2 separate regions of the Homo sapiens genome follow, and region 1 is linked to region 2. Evidence: fine-mapped expression QTL. Tissue or cell type: blood mononuclear cells. Region 2 holds a variant in brackets; the other region holds the start of a gene. All regions are shown on one strand. Distances are between the middles of the regions.

What was found. PIP is the estimated chance that this variant, and not a neighbour inherited with it, causes the effect.
Region 1: SCRN3 starts here. The variant in region 2 is fine-mapped to the expression of SCRN3 in blood mononuclear cells (TOPMed, PIP above 0.99).

What each region holds. Positions count from the first base shown.
Region 1 is chr2:174,392,134-174,400,237 of GRCh38, forward strand. SCRN3 (secernin 3) reads left to right here and starts at 3,597. Exons shown (of 8, transcript NM_024583.5): 1 at 3,597-3,684; 2 at 6,142-6,309; 3 at 7,789-7,970. The coding sequence starts at 6,151. It overlaps CIRSR (corepressor of RBPJ and splicing regulator), which reads right to left and starts at 3,579. Exons shown (of 10, transcript NM_004882.4): 1 at 3,418-3,579. The coding sequence starts at 3,489. RefSeq lists a silencer at 1-91 and enhancers at 3,478-3,527, 4,025-4,525.
Region 2 is chr2:174,441,790-174,449,897 of GRCh38, forward strand. GPR155 (G protein-coupled receptor 155) reads right to left here. Exons shown (of 16, transcript NM_152529.7): 12 at 4,822-4,958; 13 at 3,292-3,387; 14 at 330-394. Among named protein-coding and RNA genes, the nearest start is that of GPR155, 41 kb to the right of the region's middle. The variant C/G (reference allele first, on the strand shown) is at 3,512.

The sequences.
Region 1 (8,104 bases), 50 kb before region 2:
ATTACAAGCGCCCGCCACCACACCCAGCTAATTTTTGTACTTTTAGTAGAGACAGGGTTTCACCATGTTGGCCAGGCTGTCTTGAATTCCTGACCTCGGGTGATCCACCCACCTCAGCCACCCAAAGTGCAGAGATTACAGGTGTGAGCCACCATGCCCAGCGGGGGTTTCTTTTTGGGGTGATGACAAAGTTCTAAAATTGTTTGTGGTAATGATTACTTAACTCCATGAATACATTTTAAAAACCACTAAATTGTACATTTTACATGGGTGTTTGTATGATATGTAAATTTATCTCAGCAGAGCTGTTAAAATGAAAAATGACTATTCTGATGGCTGTGTAGTGAATGGATTTGAGAGGACTCAAGATTGGAGGCAGTAGAACCACTTAGGAAATGCAACAATATAGGTGAAAGATGATGAGGGTCTGAATTAAGACACAAGCAGCAGTGACAGAAAGGAAAGATGGATTCAAGAGATATTTGGAAGGTAAGACCAATAGCATTCAGTGATTGACTAGATAAAGGAGTGATGGGAAAAGGGATGAATCCTGAGCTTCTGGTTTGGGCAACAGGATGAGGGACTGTTTTACTATCTATATTTCTACCCATATGAGATAGCAAGTATAAAAAGGGCTGATTTGGGGTAAAAAACTTTTATATCAGATATGTTGAGTTTGAGGTGCCTATAGGACATCAAGATGCAAATGTCTAGTAGATAGCTGTCTTGAGCCACATCAAAGTTAAGAAGAGAAAACTGGGACTGCAGATTTGAGTCATGAGTAAACAGGCTAGTTAAAACAGGCTAGTTGGATGTGATTGCTTGGGGCAAGCATACTAAGTAAGCAAGAAGTGGGCCAAGGATGAAACTCTGGGGAACACTTATATTTTAGGAGCAGGCTAAGAATAAAGATCCAGTGAAGTTGATGGGAAAAGAACAGTCTAATAAGAGAGCTGGAAAACTAGAAGAGAGTAGTTATTACAGCTAAGGGAACAGAGAGTTTCACAAAAAAGGGAGTTTACAGTGATGCAATTGTCAATAGCCAGTTTATGAACTGTTTGCCAGTCCACAAGAAGACTAAAGAGCTTGGACCACAATGTAAATTAACTGCTTCCTTCATTAACAAAATCAAGAAAAAAAAAGAACAGCTGAACAAAACAGTGTATCCTGTGACATAAATGATTGAGGCAGCGCATAACAATACACAACAGAGTGACCAGCAGATATACAGCATTCACTCTTATTTTTGGTGAACAAATGAGACCTTAAAACCTACTGGACTTTTTATAAGCTTGGGAAACTGAAAACAAACAAGGAAAAAAAGAACCTACTGGACTTTAATAAACCCAACATGCCTAATTTTACAATTAGAATTTTCTTTCTTTCTTTTTAAATATAGATGGGGTCTCACTTTGTTGCCTATGCTGGTCTTGAATTCCTGGCCTCTCAAAGTGCTGGAATTATAGGTATGAGCCACCATACCTGGCCCTTAAAATTTTCATGGTGGAACTCTTTTGCACTCTTTGATCAAACTCCTTTGTTTCTTCCACTTCTATTAAAAAAAAAAAAAAACTTTACTGGAGTATGACATATAAAAAGCTGTACATATTTAATGTATACAACCTGAGTTTGGTGACAAGTATATCCCTGTGAAACCATCATCACAATCTACACTATAAACATATCCATCACCTCCAAAAGTTTCCTCCTACCCTAATAAATTTTTCTATTTATCTTCATTTAATATAGTTCCTTTATCCTTAGTTAATAAAGAATGCTAGAGGTCACCCCCTCTCCCCATAAAGTGTTAACTATCTAGAAAGGTCTGCTAATCAAAAACATTTCATTCTTCTCCTCTATCCTGGGAAAAGTATAAAACAGATCAAAGAGGCCAACAATATTTGGTACATTTTACATAACACTTTACACAGATGAGAAGAATGTAGGTTCTAAGCCTATAACTGCTTTACTGAATTTCTCATAGCGGACTTGCAAAAGTTATTCTCTGTGGATTTCTTTTTTCTTGTAAGAAAGCTGATACATTGAAATTTATAAAGCGAAATGTCAAAAGTTCCAGTAAAAAATTATGATTTCTCAGGTATATTTGTCTCTAAATATAAACAGCAAATAAGCAAGCACCTGAATTCCATCTAATCTCTTCATTCTTGTAAAAATAGTAACAGCTGACCCCCTAAGTATGCAGAGAAAGGAAATGTCTGTGTTTGGTGTCAAAAGTTATTGAGCCAACCAAATACAAGAAACCTCTCCCTCCCACAGTTGCAACCACACAAACACAAACTGGTGCAGTGGAAAAAAAATCACTGGGTTAATCAGGTGTTCCAGATCCTAGTTCTGGTACAACATTTAACTAGCTGTGTAACTCTTGGCAAATTTGTTTCCTCATTTATAAAATGAGGAGATGGGGCTGGATGATTACCAAAGAGCTTTCAAGGTGTATCTGTGTTATTAAAATTTCATGGGGGAGTTATTAAGAAAAAATGTTTAATAAGACTCCTTAGGAAGGTAACAGTGAAAAAAAAGTTGAGAATCACTGGTCTAGAAGTGAGAGTATATAGCAGTATCTCATCACCTCAACTCGTTCTAAAAACAAATAAAAGCTTAGTTATTTTCACAAGTTTCTATGTAGGGGCAATCAACATTTTATTGAGCACCTCCTCTCTGTAGTGGACACAGTGATAGATGCCTACGTTGTTTCAAATCCTTTATCTTCACTATTTCACTTAATCCTCACAATTAAGTCAATCATCCTTAATTTACAGATTAGAAGACTGAGGGTCAGATATTACAAATATTTTGTGCAAGGTCTTAAGGCTAAAAGTGACTGCTCGAATAACTAGAATCCAGGTTTGACTCCAAAGCTGATTCTTTCTACTTCACTCTTTTGCTTTTCATTACTATGATATTCACCAAAGTATTACAACTGGTAGACCTGTAATTATGTAAAACACTAAACTTCAACGAGTTTAGTCATCAAAAAGACACTAGATTATTAGGTAATTTTTTTAAAGATCTATCTTAAGTAAACGGGGAGGCTTCTTTGTACAGAAAAGTAGAGTTCAGAAGCCGTGATCCCTGGGATCCGAAAAGACAAAAAACCAGAATCAGCTGAAGGAAGTACTGAGGAATTTTGACATTAGTCTTCGCATATTATGGATTTGCATTCTGGCCGACAAAGATTCTCTAGGCCACCGGTCTCCTCGCTGTTGCAGAATAAACGCTGAGGACCCGCTGCGTCAGCGAGCTGCTCAGCAGAGAAAGGCGAGACCACCAGGGCTTTAGGCCTAGAGAAGCGGAGGCTGTCCTAGGGATCTCAGAGACACCATCACTTTCACTTCCAGCAGCCTCTGGGAAGGCGGTCCCTGTGGGCCTAATCCCTCCCCGGGTCTGTTTACTCACTTTTTTGATATTGGATTTGGAGGCAGGATGAAAGTCTTTCTTGCACATGAAGTTGGCGAAGGATTTCCCCATCTTGGAACTGGAACTAGGGAAAGCAGGGGCTAGATCTGTTAGCAACGTAAACAAACTCAGCCGCCTAACCGGAACTGCGTTTCCAGCAGCAAGGGGGAACTTCCGAGATCAAAGGTGACAGCTTCCGGCAACTGATGCCTCCACTGGCCACTCCTCCCTCCGTCCACCTGTCACTTCGGGTAGCTGGGAGGCCAGGTGAGGGGCGCGCACGGGGGAGGGGCGTGCATAGTTGAGACAGAAACCCGGAAGACCCAACTGTGGCGCGGCACTGCTTGACCGAGGGGCTCCGGAGCCCAGCTGCACCGGCTGCGGTTTGAGCGCCCAGGGCCGGGGTGCGGGGTGGACCGCGGCGGCCCTTCGACCAAAGGTGCTTGAAGCTCGAGCCCATTACTTTCTGTGGACTCTGACTCGAGCTGCAAAAGCTTTTCTGCACTGTTTTTCTCATCTATGTTATGAAGATAATAATTCCGGCCCTAACCGTAGTATGCTTGCGAGAATCCAACAATATGATGTTTCTGAAAGCGCCGGCTGAACTAAGAGCGCGTGAAATAGAATGACAGACAGCTCTGCAAGAACGGAGGCCCTGTCTATTTTGTACCCAGCTGTACGGTACTGGCGCCGAAAGACGTTCAATAAATACTTATTGAATGACGAATACGCGTTAGGAGTTGGTAAAATCTCTCAAGGCTTCACCTCCTCAGTGGGCTAGGTGCAATTCTAACCAGGGGGCAAGTTTCCTTAGCTTTCCCTACGACCCCAGTTAGGCAGCTCAGGTTACTATTGCAGCTTGATGGCCCTTGGGACTCCAGGTTTTTGAGTGGACGTGGCTGCTACTGCAGCAGGTGATCCACCAACCAAGTTCTCTATCAGGGTAATGTTAAGAATAAACCTTGGCCGGGCGCGGTAGCTCACGCCTGTAATCCCAGCACTTTGGGAGGCCAAGGTGGGTGGATCACCTGAGGTCAGGAGTTCAAGACCAGCCTGGCCAACATGGTGAAACCCCGTCTCTACTAAAAACACGAAAAATTAGCCGGGTGTGGTGGCACGCGCCTGTAATCCCAGCTACTCGGGAGGTTGAGGCAGGAGAATCACTTGAACGCGGGAGGCGGAGGTTGCAGTGAGCCAAGACTGCTCCATTGCACTCCAGCCCGGGCAACAAGAGTTAAACTCCATCAAAAAAAAAAAACAAAAAACGAATAAGCCTTTATGAGAAATTTTCTCTCCTACCAAATAATAACAATAACAGCTTTCATGTGAGTATCTACTATGTTCTATGCACTGTGCAAAACACTTTACGTGTTGCCTTATTAAGTTCTCATAACAGCCCATCAAATAGTGTCTTATTTTTCTGATGAGGCAGAAGGCATAGGTAAGAGAGAGATTAAATAGTCTGCCAAAGTTATATAGTGATAGAACTAACTATAAAACACAAATAGAAGGAGATCCAGGACATAAGAGTTGAAATACAGAAAGAAAATAACAGAAGCCATCAAGACATCAGACTTCTCGTCACTGAGGAGAAGAGGAAAACCCTTAAGAGTTTCAGTCTGAAGTTTTTATTTAGTCATTTTCTTTTCTTTTTAAGGAAACATTTATTATATTTAAATTTTGTTTTTAAGTTGCTAGCATCTGCCTGTGTAAAGCCATTTTAAGGTTTTGCCATTATTAAAGGAAAGAAGGAAACTCTGTAAAACAATGTGTCTGTTCTGGCAGCAAAATAAGGACCTTTAGGTGTTCTATTATAAGTGAAGATCTAAGATTTTCCAAGTTACAACTGAAGAGGTAATCTAGATATTAAAGTATATAATTGCGATTTATAAATTAAATATGTGAACTTTCTCCTAGAAATATCAGCAATTTGGAATTATATTGACATATTTTTGTCTGAATCAATGAGTCTGTTTCAAAATTTCAGTCTCATCAGAATTATAATGTGTATTATTTCCCAGCTCAAATAAGACCCCTTCTTCCTTCCTTTGAGGAAGTACTGGGCACGTAAGATTTTTTTCCATAAGACAAGTTCCAGCAAAGAGAATATAAAGATTAGTAAGACATACTCCCAGCCCTCAAGGATCTCATTGTCCAGTAAAGGGATTTATATATACACGAATGTAATGGAATCTAGCCTTTACAACAATAGAGCTAGGTACACGGATTCCCAAATATGGAAATGGTGAAACGAAATTCAGGGAAGACTTTAGGAGAGAAAGGTCTTAGAGAATAAATGTGAACTATACAGTAGAAGAAGGTAGTTCTCATTGCCATTTTCTTACTGAGTTGTAGTACCAGATTGAGTCCCAAGTCATATTCTTACTGATTTTTAGGCTGTAGTATACAAAATTTAAAACTTTAATGAACAGCCAAGCACGGTCACTCATGCCTGTAATCCCAGGGCTTTGGGAGGCAGAAGGGGGAGGATCTCCTGAGCCCAGGAGTTCCAGGCTGCAGTAAGCCCTGATCATACAACTGCACTCCAGCCTGGGTGAAAGAGCTAGACCTTGTCTCCAAAAAATAAAAATAAAAAAATCAAAGCTTTAATGAACATCCTTAATTAGATATGGCAATAATATCCTTTGGTCATTGAGTAAAACTCTTTATTTTTATATACTTAAAAGTGTTCTTTTTATTTTAAAACATCTGTATAATTTTTAGTTAAAAAAAATGGAACCTTTTTCCTGTGACACTTTCGTGGCATTACCTCCAGCAACAGTCGATAACAGGATTATTTTTGGAAAAAATTCAGATAGACTCTATGATGAAGTACAAGAGGTGGTTTATTTTCCTGCTGTAGTTCATGATAACCTGGGAGAACGTCTTAAGGTAGGTGAAATAAATGTTTTGTTAGCAATATGCCTTTTAAAAATATCATAAAGTTATTTCTATACATAGCAATTTGGAAGAAACTGTAGAAGTTAAAATTGAGGAGTTTACATTTGAAAAATAAATGAGTCAGAAATAAACTGTGATCTTTTATTTCAGTGATTCGGAGGACGTTGAAATAACAATAATAAAATTATCCATTGTTTGAATAAATATTTGAATGCTTTCCATATGCAAGCATGTTAGATAGGGCAAGAGATTTAAAGTCAGCTGTCAAGACTCTGTTCCAGGAGCTTAGAGTCTAGTATAGCAATAAGATGTGTATGCATTATACCCCATTATAAAATAGGATGGTTTAAATGCTAAATTTAAGTAACAGTAGCATGCTGTGGCAGCGGAAGAGAATGAACATTTAATTCAGCTTGGAGTTAGCTGGAATTTGATGGACAAAAAGGATTCTGATTCTGAATTGGCTTAGGTTCTACTTGATGTAGAATAGGAAAGTCATCCCAGACTTTAGGAATGACAGTTTTATGACACATCAAAAAAGGTTTATTAGGCCCTATGTTAACACTATCAATATACATTTTATGCAGTCACTTGGTAGTATACACATTAATTAAAGGATCCTTTAAAAACTTATTTTAAAAACCCATTTAATGTGGAACTTAAAATGAGAGCTTCAAATTATGCTATTGTTGCTAATTCATACTTTTTAGATTTTATTTTATTGATATTCTAATATTAAAACATATTAAATATTAGACTTTTTTCTGTATCCTATGCCATATTTTTTTCTTTTGCTAAGACCACTTATTCATCTGTGATACCACTTCCACTTTATTTCTTCATATTTAAATATAGCCTGTCCTGTAAACCAGTGGTTCTCATTCTTTTCATTGCTGTGGGCATACCTAATGGTTGACTTCAAAATGTGATGTGAGATTCCTATGACAAAACTCTTGTATTCGAAGGCTACCATGTGAGTAATTATATCACTAATCAAGAAACACTGGATATTGAGGTTGAGAACTACTTCCTTAAGCTTCAACTCACACATCTACAAAAATGTTTCAAGATATTACAGCTAGAGACCATCTTTCTCCTGAGCTCCAATAGCACCTTGTCTTCACTTCATGACCCTAATACTTTATACTTTATTTTATCTTAATGTAGAAGTTTTAGTTTCTCAAAAGTGAGATCTTTATCTGATTCATCTTTGTAACTAACATATCTCTTGGCAGAATGTTTTATAATAGGAAATGCTCAGCAAATATTTGAATGAATAAATATTTTAGGGTTATTCTGAATATGTTTTAAGGGTAATGCCTTTATTATTGAAAATTTCAATTTACTTATATTTCCTTTACCTCTTTCATAACAGTTTTGTCTTCTGACTGATTTTTTTAAATTCTGGATTTTGATAACTTTTCTGGTTTTGTGGTTCTTGCTATGACTTTTTTTTTTTTTTTTTTACAGTGTACATATATAGAAATTGATCAAGTTCCTGAAACATATGCTGTTGTCCTGAGTCGCCCAGCGTGGTTGTGGGGGGCAGAAATGGGAGCCAATGAGCATGGAGTTTGCATTGGGAATGAAGCTGTATGGGGAAGAGAAGAAGTTTGTGATGAAGAAGCACTATTAGGAATGGACCTTGTCAGGTTATTTTTTGTTACATTTTATACTACAGACCTTGTCTAAATTTATAATTTTTGTGTAACTCTTACTTGTTTTATTTTCCTATTTTTGAGGGGGCTTTGATACTTTGCAGTTTGTGTCAAAATGGTTTAAAGTA
Region 2 (8,108 bases):
TGGAGTGCAGTGGCACAATCTTGGCTCACTGCAACCTCTGCCTCCCAGGTTCAAGCCATCCTCCTGCCTCAACCTCCTGAGTAGCTGGGACTACAAAAGCATGCCACCACACCTGGCTAATTTTTGTATTTTTTTTTTTGTAGAGACTAGGTTTCACTATGTTGCCCAGGCTGGTCTTGAACTCCTGAGTTCAAGCAATCTGCCCACCCTGGCCTCCCAAAGTACTGGGATTACAAGTAGCCACCATGCATGGCCCCATATCAGTATCTTAATATAATGGCTTTGTCATCACATTTACAGATACAGATTTATTTCAAAACTTAATTTACCTTCTTTTGAAAGGCAGGATGATTAAATGTTTATCTAATCCAAAGATTCCAAAGGAAATAAATCCCTAGGGAAGAAAACAAAGTTATTTTTTTCAGAATTCAACAATAACATTTTAAAACAGAGAAGTTAAGGAAGTCACCAAATTTAGTGTTTGAGGAGACAAACCTATAGTGACAAGAGCAACATTTTAAGTGGAACACACAAAGTAGGCCCTTCAAAGGCAGGTATGATGCTTTGCTGCCTTTTCCCAATCATTCTATCCCACTCATTGTGATGGGTGATACAAACCAGGGCTGAGCAGCCGCATTTACATGATAGTAAAATGAAAACGTTTAAGGGCATATATGTCTTTGTTTCCCCTTTATAAAAAGAAAATATTTCCCACTGTGCGTAAGTATTTATTATTTTTCCATGAAACCTCACAAATTATATAATTAACAAGTGTTGCAGTATCTAATAATAATGCAGTAATTGAACAGAATTTATGTAAAGTGAAACTGGCTAGTGGTTAGGAGAAGAGTTCAAGGATTTGTGAGTGTCAAGGCAAATGCCTAGCACCAGGTATCAGCCACAGGTTAGGACAATTTAAAGACTCTTTTTGAGAGATAGGAAGTTGGGAGCTGCCATCTGTGTCACACTGGGATAAGGATCTGAGTGCAACTTGATAGAAGTAGAATGGAGAATGCAGAAGGACCCAAATTTCTTCATCCCCCATACTATAAACAGCCAGAAGGGAATGAGCTTACCATACCACCTCCCCAAGAGGAAAATGGGATGGGAATGGGGTTTCTGTCTGTCTTGCTCCATTGAACCACTTCGGCCTTAAGTTGTGGGGCAGCATTTTAAATGCAACATTCCTGGCATTAGCTGCTGTTGATGACACAGCCCTATGGAATGAAGCTCATCCCAGTCCCAGTTCTGGATAGCTCAGCTTAGAATGGGCTTTCTGAATGCAAAATGCTAAGTCAGACTATGATTTTTCAACTCAGTATTTTATAGTTCTTAGATACAAAATCAGATCTTAAACAGTATCACAAAGTGAGATATCAAGTAGGATGCTCATGTCTGTCTGTAATAAACTGATTAAGGTCATTTGTCTCTGTGGGCATAGCCATTTTTGCTCCCATCATAATGGCCAAACTGTAAATATTGTAAGAAATTAATATTAGGAAAAACAGCAACATCTATTGACAAATGTTAACTCATTCATATGGCAAATTATTTTAGATTTAATAGACAAACTCAGTGATTTCAAATGTGTGGGGTTTTTTGTTTTTTGACCTGATACTCAGTCTGTGGACTAATATTCTGTAATGCAAAAGTAAGGGCTGGGTGCGGTGGCCCATGCCCGTTAATACCAGCACTTTGGGAGGCCAAGGCAGGTGGATCACTTGAGGTCAGGAGTTCAAGACCAGCCTGGCCAACATGGTGAAACCTCATCTCTACTGAAAATACAAAAATTAGCTGGGCATGGTAGCAGGTGCCTGTAGTCCTAGCTACTCAGGAGGCTGAGGTAGGAGAACCACCTGAACCCAGGAGGTGGAGGTTGCAGTGAGCTAATGCCAATGCACTCCAGCCTGGATGACAGAATGAGACTCCATCTCAATTAAAAAAAAAAAGTAAGGAGTTAAAGGTCAAAATTTGGAATTTGCACATAAAAAATATTTTCCCAATATGTAAGATGTAATTTATCCTTAAGTATCCATTTTAATAGTGACATAAACATAGACAATAGCACCTATCATATTACTTGTTTATGGAATTTTAGTTTCCTAATTCATAAACTGGGGGTGATAATACTACTTTGCAGGTGTTGTCATGATGTTTAAATGAGATAATGAATGTAAAATGCTTAACGATGGTTGGCACATAGTAGACTATCAAGGAATGGTAACTGCTATCCCTAGCCAAAATTTATTTATATACCACATGATTTTTCTTTTTAAGATTTAAGTATCTATTGTTCAAGAAACATCAAAATGTAAATGAAATGATGTCCACTAATTTAAGGAGATGGCCGGGTGTGGTGGCTCATGCCTGTAATCCCAGCACTTTGGGAGGCTGAGGTGGGTGGATCTCCTGAGGTTGGGAGTTGGAGACTAGCCTGAGCAACTGGAGAAACCCCGTCTCTACTAAAAATACAAAATTAGCCGGGCGTAGTGGTGCATGCCTGTAATCCCAGCTACTCAGGAGGCTGAGACAGGAGAATTGCTTGAACCTGAGAGGCAGAGGTTGCAGTGAGCTGAGATCACGCCATTGCACTCCAGCCTGGGCAACAAGAGCGAAACTCCGTCTCAAAAAAAAAAAAAAAATTTAAGGAGCTAAATTAAAAGTTCAGGGAAATTAAGTTATTTTCCCAAAGTGACCTTTTTTTTTTTTTTTTTTTTTGAGACAGTCTCATCTCACTCTGTCACCCAGGCTGGAGTGCAGTAGCACAGTCTCAGCTCGCTGCAACCTCCACTTCCTGGGTTCAAGTGATTCTTGTGCCTCAGCCTCTGCAGTAGCTTGGATTATCGGCATGGACTACCACGTCTGGCTAATTTTTTTGTATTTTTTTGTAGAGATGGGGTTTCACCATGTTGGCTAGGCTGGTTTTGAACTCCTGGCCTCAAGTGACCTGCCCACCTTGGCCTCCCAAAGTGCTGGGGTTACAGGTGTGAGCCAATGAGCCCGGTCCCAATGTGACTTATTAAGATCACACCAAAGTTACTACCTGGCATTTTTCTGGTGGAAGCACTCAGCGTACATTCTGATGACTTTAACCAATATAATAATTCGTCTCTACTAGAAGACAAGCAGCAGCTGTCAGCTGCCATGCATACCAGCAGCTGGCAAACAAACTAAATCCTTTTTATGTGAAAGAAAACAACATCCTAATCCACTCCCCGCTTCCCCCGACCCCCTACCAATCAACCTATCCAGGAAGACAAAAACCCCTCAAAGTTCTCCATAAATAAATACCTGACCAAAGTTAAACACGGCACAGAAAAACTGTAACTCAACATAAAGTCTTCCAGGCTCTTGGTTGAATAGCCACCATAAACAACTGGAAAGATTCTGTAAAGAAAGGAGAAAAGAGTATTTTAAAATCAAGCAAGCTGATAATTCCTCTCCATCCACAGCATAGTACAATAACTTACCTACTTAATAATTACAGGGAAAAAGACTAGACGGAAAAACA[C/G]TGAGAGAATATAGAGGCTTTATCTTTTCAATAAGAAAGTTTCAACCTCTCCTCCTGACAGATGTCATTCAAACAGTTATCTATTCTGATCAGATTTGAAGCAAGAAGACATGAGCCATAATACAGAAGCTTACATAATGTATCAAGATTGCCAACTAGCCTAAGACAGGCCTGATTTTAAATTTAGTTCTACACAATGAAAACAATTACATCACTAAGCAATTCTTGGCAGCATTTCTTATTTTTTGATTTTTGTTCTTAAATGGCACTTAAAGTGGTATTGGCTGATATCACACTATCTCACGAGCATCCCAGTGTGCAAAGCGTTCCTTCATAGGTTATCTGGTCCATCTCCTACCTCTGGACGAGTTACACTTGAACCATCTCAAAGAATTATATAATAAGAACTGATAATTCACAAATAGGACATTTAGTAATCAAAGAAATGCATGTAGTCTAAAAATAAAATACTGTATTTTAATTTTCTCTATTTTGTAAGGGTCTATTATATGAAGTAGTTATGTTATTTTGATAATTGAAAATTATTTTTTAAAGTTTATCTGAGGAATATGTTCTGAGAGGTTTTTTGGTTTTCTTTTTTTTTTTCTGGTGGACACTGAGGTTTCATGTTCTGAGACATTAATGTAGGCATTTATCCACTTTGGTCAGTCAGGTATGTTAGGAATAAGTGGCCCTGTGTACATTATTGAAATAGCTGCTTTTGGGCCTGGCGCAGTGGCTCACGCCTGTAATTCCAGCACTTTGGGAGGCTAAGGAGGGTGGATCACCTGAGGTCAGGGGTTCAAGACCAGCCTGACCAACATGATGAAACCCCGTCTCTACTACAAATACAAAAATTAGCCAGGCATGGTGGCATGCGCCTGTAATCCCAACTACTCAGGAGACTGAAGCAGGAGAATCGCTTGAACCCGGGAGGCAGAGGTTGCAGTGAGCTGAGATCATGCCACTTCACTCCAGCCTGGGCAACAGAGTTAGACTCTGTCTCAAAAAAAAAAAAAATAAAAAATAAAAAGAAATAGCTGCTTTTACCAAATTCTAGGTTCAGAGCATAGAATGAATAAATGATTCTAAGCAGAATAAGCTATTGGAGCACTCAGGCCTCAGAGTAATGTGAATGATTCATCTCTTCCCCTCACACCTGCAATTATTTAGCTCAAGATCCAAATTCAGGTGACCTAGCTACCACACTTCTGGAAAGCAGCAACTAAGTTTTTCCCGGATGCCTGAATAAAACCTTTGCCAAAAATTTAAAGAAATGGCCCCAAAACAAAACCAGAAAAAACCATTACAGCGAACAGGCCAATGATGAGAAGTAAACACAGCAACACATGTCGGGTCAGTTGCTGGTCTCCACTCTGTAGATACTGTTCTTCTTCCTGGGCTAATATGCAGCTCTGGGAGTTACAGCGACTCACACAATGATTGTCTATAAAAGAGTAAGCACAACAATTTGTAATCAGAGCTTTTTATCTAAATGCATTTTAAATTTGTAATGACTTCCTAAGAGAAACAACAGAAAAGCACATTCAGCTAAGAATCAGTATATTATTTTAGATGAAATTGGAAGAAAGCTCCTTCATGTTGCTTTAGAAGAATTCTAGCTGAAATGTTTTTATCTCAAAAAACATAAGTAGAATACAATAGTTCCCTTTTACACTATTCAACAATGTTTTATATATATAATTATCTAACATAAGTTATATAATTTGGTCTTTAAAAATTATACATAATTTGCCTGGGTGCGGTGGCTCATGCCTGTAATCCCAGCACTTTGGGATGCCGAGGCAGGCAGATTACTTGAGATTAGGAGTTCAAGACCAGCCTGGCCAACACGGTGAAACCTCATCCCTACTAAAAATACACAAATTAACTGGGTGTGGTGGCGGGCACCCGTAATTCCAGCTACTTGGAAGGCTGAGGCAGGAGAATCGCTTGAACCCAGGAGGCAGAGGTTGTGGTGAGCCAAGACTGCACCACAGAGTAAGACTCTGTCTCAAAAAAAATTAAAAAAAATAATAAAAAATTATATATAATTTTTATATAATTAATATAATTAAGTATAAATTATATATAATTTTTATTTTATATATTAGTTATATAAATAATATATACACATTACATATATAATTATATAACAATTATATATTATGTTATAAATGTATATTATATATCAGTATATATTATAATCATATAAATTTATATATAATTATATATGTAATTTGTGCATATTATATAAATTACAAATTAATATATAAGCATATATAAATAAAAATTTTATATTTAATTATATTTATAATTTACATATATAAATTATATATTAAATATATAATATATATTAGATATTATATATATCCTAAGTGAATTAACACAGGAACAGAAAACCAAGTACTGCATGTGCTTACTTATAAGTGGGAGCTAAATATCAGATACTCATGGACATAAAGATGGCAACAATAGGAACTGGGGACTACTAGAGGTGAGGAGGGAGGAAGGGGGACAAAGGTTGAAAAAGTATATAATATATATTTTTATTTTTATATTGTATATATTAAAATTATATACATATAATTTTAAAGGCCGAATTAATAACTCAAGTTTTATCACTGATAAATCTACATATTAGTCATGAATACCCTATTTTGGCTAACTGTGAAACAAATTATTATTATCTCTTAACCTCTCATTAAAGAGTTTACAATTTGCCTTAACCCCTGCCTTTCACCATATACAAAAATTAACTCAAGATGGACTAAGATTTAAATGTAATGTCTCAGCCAGGCACGGTGGCTCACGCCTGTAATCCTAGCAATTTGGGAGGCTGAGATGGGCGGATCACTTGAGGTCAGGAGTTCAAGACCAGCCTGGCCAACATGGTGAAACCCTGTCTCTACTAAAAATACAAAAATTAGCCAGGCATGGTGGCGGCCGCCTGTAATCCCAGCTATTTGGGAGGCTGAGGCAAGGGAATTGCTTGAACCTGGGAGCAGAGGTTACAGTGAGCCAACATCGTGCCATGGCACTCCAGCATGGGCAACAGAGCAAGACTGTGTCTCAAAAAAAAGTAATGCCTCAAACTATAAGAATCCTAGAAGAAAACCTAGGAAACACCATTCTGGACATCGACCTTTGGGAAGAATTTATGACTCAGTCCTCAAAAGCAATTGTAACAAAAACACTATACTGGGAAGTTTTTTGTTTTTTGTTTTTTGTTTTTTTTTTTTTTTTTTGAGACGGAGTCTCGCTCTGTCGCCCAGGCCGGACTGCGGACTGCAGTGGCGCAATCTCGGCTCACTGCAAGCTCCGCTTCCCGGGTTCACGCCATTCTCCTGCCTCAGCCTCCCGAGTAGCTGGGACTACAGGCACCCGCCACTGCGCCCGGCTAATTTTTTGTATTTTTAGTAGAGACGGGGTTTCACCTTGTTAGCCAGGATGGTCTCGATCTCCTGACCTCATGATCCACCCGCCTCGGCCTCCCAAAGTGCTGGGATTACAGGCGTGAGCCACCGCGCCCGGCCTACTGGGAAGTTTTAAGGTAAAAACAAAAACAAAACCAAAAATTGACAAGTGGGACCTAATTAAACTAAAGAGCTTCTGCATAGCAGAAGAAACTATGAACAGAGTAGACAGACAACCTACAGAATGGGAGAAAATATTCGCACACTATGCATCTAACAAGGCCTAATATCCAGAATCTATAAGGAACTTAAACAATTGAACAAACAAAACACAAATAACTCCATTAAAAAATGCACAAAAGACATGAACAGACACTTCTCAAAGAAGACATACAAGCGGCCAACAAACATGAAAAAATGCTGCACATCACTAATCATCAGAGAAATCAAAACCACAATGAGATACCGTCTTGCATCAGTCAGAAGGGCTATTATTAAAAAATCAATAAACAACAGATGCTGGTGAGGCTGTAGAGAAAAGGGAATGCTTTATACCATTGGTGGGAATGTAAATTAGTTCAGTCACTGTGGAAAGCAGCCTGGAGATTTCTCAAAGAACTTAGAACAGGACTACCATATGACCCAGCAATCCCATTACTGGGTACATATCCAAAAGAAAAAAAATGGTTCTACCAAAAGACTCATGCACTTGCATGTTCATCACAGCACTACTCACAACAGCAAAGCATGGAATCAAACTAGGTGCCCATCGATGGTGGACTGGATAAAGAAAATGTGCTACATATATACCATGGAATACTATGTAGCCATAAAAAGAATGAAATAGGCCAGGCACAGTGGCTCATGCCTGTAGTCCCAGAACTTTGGGAGGACAAGGCGGGCAGATCGCTTGAGCTCAGGAGTTCGAGACCAGCCTGGGCAACATGGCGAAACCCTGTCTCTAAAAAACTAAACAAGTCCGGATGCGGTGGCTCACGCCTGTAATCCTAGCACTTTGGGAGGCTGAGGTGGGCAGATCACCTGAGGTCAGGAGTTTGACACCAGCCTGACCAATATGGTGAAATCCCGTCTCTACTAAAAATATAAAAATTAGCCGGGCATGGTGGCAGGTGCCTGTAGTCCCAGCTACTCGGGAGGCTGAGACAGGAGAATTGCTTGAA